Linked DNA regions of Homo sapiens: region 1 is linked to region 2. The links come from fine-mapping of genetic effects on gene expression. Tissue or cell type: whole blood. Region 2 holds a variant in brackets; the other region holds the start of a gene. All regions are shown on one strand. Distances are between the middles of the regions. Region 1 holds the start of ARPIN (actin related protein 2/3 complex inhibitor). Region 2 has its middle 31 kb from the start of ARPIN-AP3S2.

Region 1 (4,393 bases), 31 kb after region 2:
AACAAACAACAAAAAACTGGACATTTTGGAAAGTTTGATGATGAGGAGGAACACAAAGCAAGAGGAATTAGTGTAGGAATCAAATGTTGAATGGTGTTAATCGAAGATAACTTGATACTGTCTCCATGGTACCTTGTGGTTTATAATTTAATATAGAGACATTATTAAACTGCAAAATACATGGAAGAAAGTCCAACAAAATTCTGGGGTTTTTTCCCGTGATGATTGATGCTTTTTAGGAAATAAATGTCAAAACCTTTCCAAAAATTTTCCTTTTCTTCTTTTGGGTTCCTCTGTCTTGCTGGTGCCTGGCCTGCAGATTGTGCCGATGGGGTGAAGTTGCAGAGCCTAATAAGCAGATGACTCTTCCTGAGAGGATTTAGAGCAGCCCTGTCCAATACAACTTTCTGCAACAAAGAAATGTTCTGTGTCTTGTAGTCGCTAAACACACGTTGCTATTGAGCACTTAAAAATGTGGCTAGTGAAAGTGAGGAATTGAGTTTTACATTTAATTTAGGTTTAATCAGTTAGAATCGAAATTTAAGTAGCCACATGTGGCTAGTGGCTACCATGGATGGCTGTGCAGTTGGAGCCACAGTGAGGGGGAACGTGACACAGAAAAGGGAAAGAGGAGGAGGACATGCCAGCCAGGTGGCTGTGAGCAGCTGGAGGGTTTTGAGCAGAGAGGGCCAAAGGACAGTTCTACCCAGAGGGGCTTTCCAGTAGGGCTTTTCTATGTTTTTCCTTCTCAGACATACACCGGGCAGCCAGGTAGGCCAGCTAGGAGTGGGGCTGACTCATCCATTAGGCCCATCATACTTTTAGCGGTCCACAAAATGTTTTTATTCTTTTAAAATTTAAATTTAATTTCATTAATTTTTTTTAATAGACAGGGTTTCGCTATGTTGCCTAGGCTGGACTCAAACTCCTGGGCTCAAGTGATCCTCCCACTTCAGCCTCCTGAGTAGCTGGGACTACAGGTGCTCTTTCTTCCTAAAAATATGTTTAGTAATGGATGATTGGATGCAGAAAAAAAAATATATGTTTAGGTTGAAGAAAACACTTTAGACTGGGAGCAGTGGCTCAGGCCTGTAATCCTAGCACTTTGGGAGGCAGAGGCAGGTGGTGACATGAAGTCAGGAGCTTGAGACCAGCCTGGCCAACATGGTGAAACCCCATCTCTACTAAAAATACAAAAATTAGTCGGGTGTGGTGGTGAGTGCCTGTAATCCCAGCTACTCAGGAGGCTGAGGCAGGAGAATCACTAGAACCTGGGAGGCAGAGGTTACAGTGAGCCAAGATTCACCACTGCACTCCAGCCTGGGCAACATAGGAAGACTGTCTCAAAAAAAAAAAAAAAAAAATATATATATATATATATAATTCATATATTCATCTTTATGCCAACCCAGTGGTAAGATAATAATTTTTTAAAAAATTTTTAATGGAGAAAGGGTCCTTTGAAAACAAAAGTGCCTAGGACCCAAGAAAGTCATTGTCTGTGTGTGTGTGTGTGTGTGTGTGTGTGTGTGTGTGTGTGTAGCAGGGAAGGGAGAGGGTGCTTTCTTCTTCCAACATTGACAGCTCATGCTAGACTCCTAGGCACCTGCCTGGCCACCACCCCCTTTAAATGCCGCCCCCTCTCCCGGGGTACACCTGGCCTCCCTGAATGGGCCCACCTGCCCCGAGGCCTGGCACGAAGAAGCCAAACAAAAGAACAAAGATTCCTCAACAATCCCAGGGTCAGAAGAATCTTCTGTACCAGGCTTGGAAAATGCACCTGCGGACTATGACATACTTGGGCAAAGGGCATTGTGGGGCCAGGGAGGAGTTCAGGAGCTGTGCAGGAAGAAGGAGGGAGGGCAATGCTATGTTGTAGAAAGGGTGAGCTCATTAAACTTTACAATCCCCCTGATACTGACCCCATTTTACAGACGAAGAAGCATGGGCTCAGAGAGGTTGAGGAGCTTGCCCAAGCTCACAGCTGGGATTCAAACTTAGGCGTCTTTGGTCCGACACCCATGCCCCAGCTCCCTCGTCACAGATCCCTGGGATACCTGACTCAGCCATTGTAGGGCCGCGGGCGGGGCATAATGGACAGCTTCTAAGCTGACCACCCAATCCTCCCCAGTGGCTGTTCTCCATTCCTGCTTCCCAGAAACCCATCCTTCCCGGGCTGATCCTACAAAGGATCTTCTATAATAGGATCTTGGGGCCTCAATTTCCCTTTTGTGCGTGTGCTGGGGCAGGGATCTTCCTCTAGGAATGAGGAAGAGAGAGAGACAAGAGAAAAGCATGGCCTTTCTGCCCCACTGTGCTAAGCCCCCAGCCAGGGTCCTCCCGGAAGCCCAACTCCTGCCGCGCGCGGCCTGGCGTGCAGGAATGGAGCTCGGTCCCTTTAAATCCCGCCGAGGAACGCCTGAGGGCCGGGCCGCGCCATTCCCGGATCCGCCGGCTGGGAATCGCGGGTCCCCGCGCGTCCTGCAGCACTTCCCGCGCCGCGCCCCCAGCCCAGTGCGCCGGCTCTGTGCCGGGGTGCCCGGGCGGTCGGGAGAATGAGCCGCATCTACCACGACGGCGCGCTCCGGAACAAGGCGGTGCAGAGCGTCCGGCTGCCAGGGGCCTGGGACCCCGCCGCCCACCAGGGGTAGGCCTGGGCTCACGGCCTCGGGTCGGCCTCCCCTGCCCCGGCTCGAACCCCGCAACAGGATCGGGTGGGGGGGTGGGATGCGGGTGGGGGAAAACTGGGGTTGCCAAAGCCGCCTCTCCGCCTTCAGTCCGCCCCTCCAGTCCGCCGCTCCCGGCGCCCCTGCCGCCGCGCCCGCCCAGCGACCCCATGACACAGATCGGCTTAAAGCTCCCCGCCTGTCCGCCTGCCCTCGAGAGAGGGTCCCGACCCCCAGACAGGTCTCCGAAGGCTGGGCTTCGCCTCACGCCGACCTCCGGCCCCACCCCACCCGCGTAACTATAAACTCCAGCTACTTGCCGCGCTGCTTTTGCACAGACTCATGCCCTGCCCCAGAAGGGACAGTGGCCGTGCTGTGGCGGGAACAGCGGGCGGGCTGGTCCAGAGCAGGGCCTGCCTGGGTGAGGAGGATTTGGAGGGCCAGGCCCTGTCGTCACAGGGTTATGAGGCCGAAGGGACCATTCCATTTACAACTGCGCTGAAGAATTGTGCTAAGTGAAATAAGCCAGATACAGAAAGACAAATACTGTGTGATCTCGTATATGGAACCTATAAAAGCGTTGAACCATAGAAACGGCAGAACAGACCAGGCGCTGTGGTTCACGCCTGTAATCCCAGCACTTTGGGAGGCCGAGGCGGGTGGATCACTTGAGGTTAGGAGTTTGAGACCAGCCTAATGGTGAAACCCTGTCTGTACTAAAAATACAAAAATTAGTCGGGCGTGGTGGCAGATACCTGTAATCCCAGCTATTTGGGAGGCTGAGGCATGAGAATCGCTTGAACCTGGGAGGTGGAGGTTGCAGTGAGCCGAGATTGTGCCACTGCACTCCATCCTGGGCGATGGAGCAAGACTGTGTCAAAAGAAAAGAAACAGTAGAACAGTGAACAGTGATTGCCAGGGGATAGTGGATGGGGATGGGGTAATGATCAAAGGTACAAACTTTCAGTTATAGAATAAACAATTTCTGGGGACCTAATGTACAGCATGGGGTCTGGTGGGTGTGTTCATTAATCTGTGGTAATCATTACATAGTGTGTACTTAAATCATCACGTTGTGCACCTTGAATATATACAGTCTTTTGTCAGTTAAATATTTAGAAAAATAATTGTGGGGGGTGGGGAAGAATTGGATAGAGACCAGCTAGGTAGAGTTTTCACTTCCCACTCCCATCCCTATTCCACTGTCATCTTCAGCTGTCCCCATGCTTCTCCATTTCTGTGGATGCAAAAAAGGAAGCCTCCACGTTCTGCTTTTATGAAAACCAGAGTCGAGAAGCCAGGGGTCCACTTCCCCTCAGTGAAGGACCGTGTGATCTTGGACTAGTCTCAGACTTCTGAGTTTTGGTTTCTTCACCTCTCAGTAATAACCATTTCCTCGGGTTAATGACCACCTGGATATGAATGAGAAAAGGAATATGAGAGTGTTTAAAAACAGGTGGAAAGGGAAAATAGTTTATTGCAGCTTAGATACCTACCCTCACATTTGGACCAATAAAAAAGTAAAATCTTTTGTATTTAGTAATCACTTAATAGCTTACAAAACACCTTCACACACATGATCTTGTGTCAACATCAGAGGAGCAGAGTGAGGCAGCTGTTTTCCTCCCCATTTTGTAGATAAGACTGAGGCTCTGGTTCCAGTAACTCCCAGTGGCCTTGTAGGAGGGGGCCATAGCTTGATCTTAGGGCAGCCTGACAAGGTTCCT
Region 2 (4,393 bases):
TGCAACCTCCGCCTCCCGGTTCTGAGCAATTCTTCTGTCTCAGCCTCCTGAGTAGCTGGGACTATAGGCGCGTGCCACCACGCCCAGCTAATTTTTGTTTTTTAGTAGAGGCAGGGTTTCACCATGTTGGCCAGGCTGGTCTCAAAGTCCTGACCTCAAGTGATCCTCCCCCATCAGCCTCACAAAGTGCTGGGATTACAGGCATGTGCAGCCGCGCCCCGCCAAAAATAATTGTTTTTAAGGATTATTTTTCTTGTTTCTTTTCGTATCATCTGCTGAATTTATCACATTTTCTTTGTCCCATTTTTTTTTTGCAGTTGTGGTTTGCAAGTTATGTATGCTATTTTTGTTATTCTGCTAGTTATCCTTAATTTTTCAATGTTATGCATGAGCTTAGTGGAACAGCCAAATCATCGAATTAGTCTTGTTATGAGAAACAGAAATCTCCATCCTCCCTCTACCATCTCCTTCTCCCCAGAGGAAATCACTCTTATTCCTTTTTTTCTTTTTTTTTTTTTTTATTTTGAGACGGAGTCTCACTCTGTCACCCAGGTTGGAGCGCAGTGGCACGATCTCAGTGCACTGCAACGTCTGCCTCCCAGGTTCAAGCAATTATCCTGCCTCAGCCTCTTGAGTAGTCGGGATTACAGGCACTCGCCACCACGCCCGGCTAATTTTTGTATTTTTAGTAGAGATGGGGTTTCGCCATGTTGGCCAGGCTGGTCTTGACCTCCTGACCTTCAGTGATCCATCCGTCTCGGCCTCCCAAAGGGCTAAGATTATAGGCGTAAGCCACCGTGCGCGGCCTCTTTTTTTTTTTTTGAGACAGAGTCTTGCTCTTGTCGCCGAGGCTGGAGTGCAGTGGCGCCATCTCGGCTCAATGCAACCTCCACCTCTGGGTTCCAGCAATTCTCCTGCCTCAGCCTCCCAAGTGGCTGGGATTACAGGCATGCGCTGCTACGCCTGGCTAATCTTTTGTATTTTAGTAGAGACGGGGTTTCACCATGTTGCCCAGGCTGGTCTCAAACTCCTGAGCTCAGGGAATCCGCCCGCCTCGGCCTCCCAAAGTGCTGGGATTACAGGCGTGAGCCACTGCACCCGGCATAGGCCTCTTATTCCTTTTGATGATTCTTCTCATATTTACTCCTTTATCTCTAAATATTACACATATATTGCTACTTCTTGATCATTTTCAATTTTAGTTATCATCTGTTGATTTTCAACCATAGAGGATGAAGACTGAACTCTTTCACTATCAGTACACATTCACACACATACGCACACACACATGCACCTTCCCAATTCTCCCAAACTGGTAGGAGAATGAATGAATACATTTTGGTACATTTGCACAATGGAATATTATACAGCTTTGAAAGTGAATGAATTAAAGAACCAGGGAACAGCAAGTATGAATCTGGATGGTATCATAATGAGTGGAAAAAGCATGTCTCAGGTGACCACACAGAGTGATACCCTTTTTATAACATTCTAAACCAAGTGAAAGGAAACAATTCATTGTTCAGGCCCCTATAAATGTGATGAAGCTGTTTTTAAAAACCAAAAGGGCCTGATGCTGTGTCTCACTTAAGGCCATGATTTCAAGATCAGTCTGGGCAATATAGCAAGATTCCTTCCTACCAAAAAAAATTTTTTTAAATTAGCTGTGCGTGGTGGTGCACACCTGTAGTCCCAGCTACTCTGGAGGCTGAGGTGG[A/G]AGGATTGCTTAAGCCCAGGAGGTGGAGGCTGCAGTGAGCTATGATCACACCACTGAATTCCAGTGTGTGTGACAGAGTGAGACCCTGACTCATAAAATGAAATACTTAAAAAAAAAAAAAAAAAAAAAAAGAAGAAGAAGAAGAAACACCAAATTTAGGATGGTGGTTATCTTTAGTTGGGGGAGGCTGGGAGATGGGAAAGGCAAGAAGCCCATGGATATTATTGGCTAGTTGGGCTGTGGATTCAAATGAGGGTTCATTATATAAATAAATGCATGCATAAATGCACACATAAGCAAATCAAAGTAAACAAAACGAAAGAGATAAAGCATGAGCTGAACAATGATAATGTGTTCTTAACTACACAGACTTCATAGCAGTGCTGCGCATCATGGTAAAAATTCTGGAAATTTTTATCAAATTAAATTGCTTTGAAAATAAACTTCCCCACCTCCACTTTCTCTGTTTCTTCTTTCTTAACTGCTTATTATTTGACCAGTGGACCTCCTGTATTGATTTTTTTTTTTTTTTTTTTTTTTTTTGGCAAAGTCTTGCTCTGTTGCCCAGGCTGGAGTGCAATGACACGATCTCGGCCCACTGCAGCCTCTGCCTCCCAGGTTCAAATGATTCTCCTGCCTCAGCCTTCCAAGTAGCTGGGACTACAGGTGTGTGCCGTTATGCCTGGCTAATTTTTTTTGTTTTTTTTTTGAGATGGCGTCTCACTCTGCCGCCCAGGCTGGAGTGCAGTGGTGTGATCTCAGTGGTGATCTCAGCCCACTGCAACCTCTACCTCCCAGGTTCAAGTGATTCTCCTGCCTCAGCCTCTTGAGTAACTGGGATTACAGGCATGTGCCACCACACCCAGCTAGTTTTTGTATTTTTAGTAGAGACGGAGTTTCACCATGTTGGCCATGCTGGTCTTGAACTCCTGACCTCAGGTGATTTGCCCGCCTTGGCCTCCTGAAGTGCTGGGATTACAGGTGTGAGCTACCATGCCAGGCTTGATTTTATTTTCTATTTTCTCTTCTATTTTCCATCTCTTTGTCTCTGTCTCTTTGCTCTATTTTCTGGGAGATTTCCTCCACTTCAATTCCAACTTTTCATTTCTACCGTCATGTTTTTAATTTCCAAAAACTCATCTTCAGAAAATTCCTGAATGTTCCTTTTCTATGGTATCCTTTCTTTGCAGTATATCTGCCTCCAACTCCTGCTCTAGGACTCAGTCTTCCTGGGTATGCTGCATCATTTACCAGCCGTCCATCTATTTATTGTCTTACTATTGTCCTCTCCACCATTCTCCACTTCTTTATGGGTATATGTCTCTTAAACAATACTTTACCATAATTTAATTGTTTTTTCAGGAAGTTCTCTACCCTGAAATTTTTATGTAAATATTTACAATTGGCTGGGTGCGGTGGCTCACGCCTGTAATCTCAGCACTTTGGGAGGCTGAGGCAGGCGGATCACTTGAGGTCACAAATTTGAGACCAGCCTGGCCAACACGGTGAAACCCCGTCTCTACTGAATACCCAAAAATTAGCTGGGCGTGGTGGTTTACGCCTGTAGTCCCAGCAATTTGGGAGGCTAAGGCAGGAGAATCGCTTGAACCTGGGAGGCAGAGGTTGCAGTGAGCCAAGATTGCACCATTGCACTCCAGCCTGGGTGACAGAGCAAGATTCGGTCTCAATAAATAAATAAATAAATAAATAAATATTTACAATGTATTTATATATCAACCTCTAGATTTTAATAAGAATCTATATCGTACCTTCAAATAAAACAAGAAATCTTTTACTCTCTTTCTTCCCTCTTTCATTTATTCTCCTCTTCCCACCTCCCATGTTGAAATAATCAGAGATTCCCATTGCAGAGTTTTGTTTTGTTTATTTTTAATCCACACCTTCTTGGACATCAAAAAGTTTTACTGGCTTCTTTACCCACCACTCCTTATATCTCACATCTCCCTCTTGGATTCTGTCTTATCAATTGCTGCATTAAAAATTATCAATATTTGGCCAGGGATGGTGGCTCATGCCTGTCATCCCAGCACTTTGGGAGGCTGAGGCGGGCGGATCACAAGGTCAGGAGATCGAGACCATCCTGGCCAACATGGTGAAGCCCCATCTCTATTAAAAGTACAAAAATTAACTGGGCGTGGTGGCACGTGCCTGTAATCTCAGCTACTCAGGAGGCTGAGGCAGGAGAATCACTTGAACTAGGGAGTTGGAGGTTGCAGTGAGCTGAGATCGCGCCACTGCACTCCAGCCTAGGCGACAGAGTCAGACTCTGTCTCAAACAAAAACAAAACAAAACAAAAAATTATCAATATTTAGTGGCTTAAAACAAAATATGGCTGGGCGCTGTGGCTCCTTCCTGTAATCCCAGCACTTTCGGAGGCCGAGCCCAGTGGGTCGTTTGAGCTCAGGAGTTCAAGACCAGCCTGGGCAGCAAGGCAAAATTCCTGTCTCTACAAAAAATACAAAAATTAGCTGAGCAGGGTGGTGTGCACCTGTAGTCCCAGCTACTCAGGAGGCTGAAGTGGGAGGATCGCTTGAGCCCAGGAGGAGGAGGTTGCAGTGAACTGTGATTGCACCACTCCACTCCAGCCTGGTTGACAGAGTAAGACTCTGTCTCAGGTAAAAAACAACAACAACAACAAAAAAGAAACATGTATT

The links. PIP is the estimated chance that this variant, and not a neighbour inherited with it, causes the effect.
Region 1: ARPIN starts here. The variant in region 2 is the best candidate, but not a certain one, in a credible set for the expression of ARPIN in whole blood (INTERVAL, PIP 0.68).

The regions. Positions count from the first base shown.
Region 1 is chr15:89,910,998-89,915,390 of GRCh38, reverse strand. It overlaps ARPIN (actin related protein 2/3 complex inhibitor), which reads left to right and starts at 2,439. Exons shown (of 6, transcript NM_182616.4): 1 at 2,439-2,647. The coding sequence starts at 2,556. It overlaps ARPIN-AP3S2 (ARPIN-AP3S2 readthrough), which reads left to right and starts at 2,439. Exons shown (of 10, transcript NM_001199058.2): 1 at 2,439-2,647. The coding sequence starts at 2,556.
Region 2 is chr15:89,941,970-89,946,362 of GRCh38, reverse strand. No RefSeq gene overlaps it. Among named protein-coding and RNA genes, the nearest start is that of ARPIN-AP3S2, 31 kb to the right of the region's middle. The variant A/G (reference allele first, on the strand shown) is at 1,718.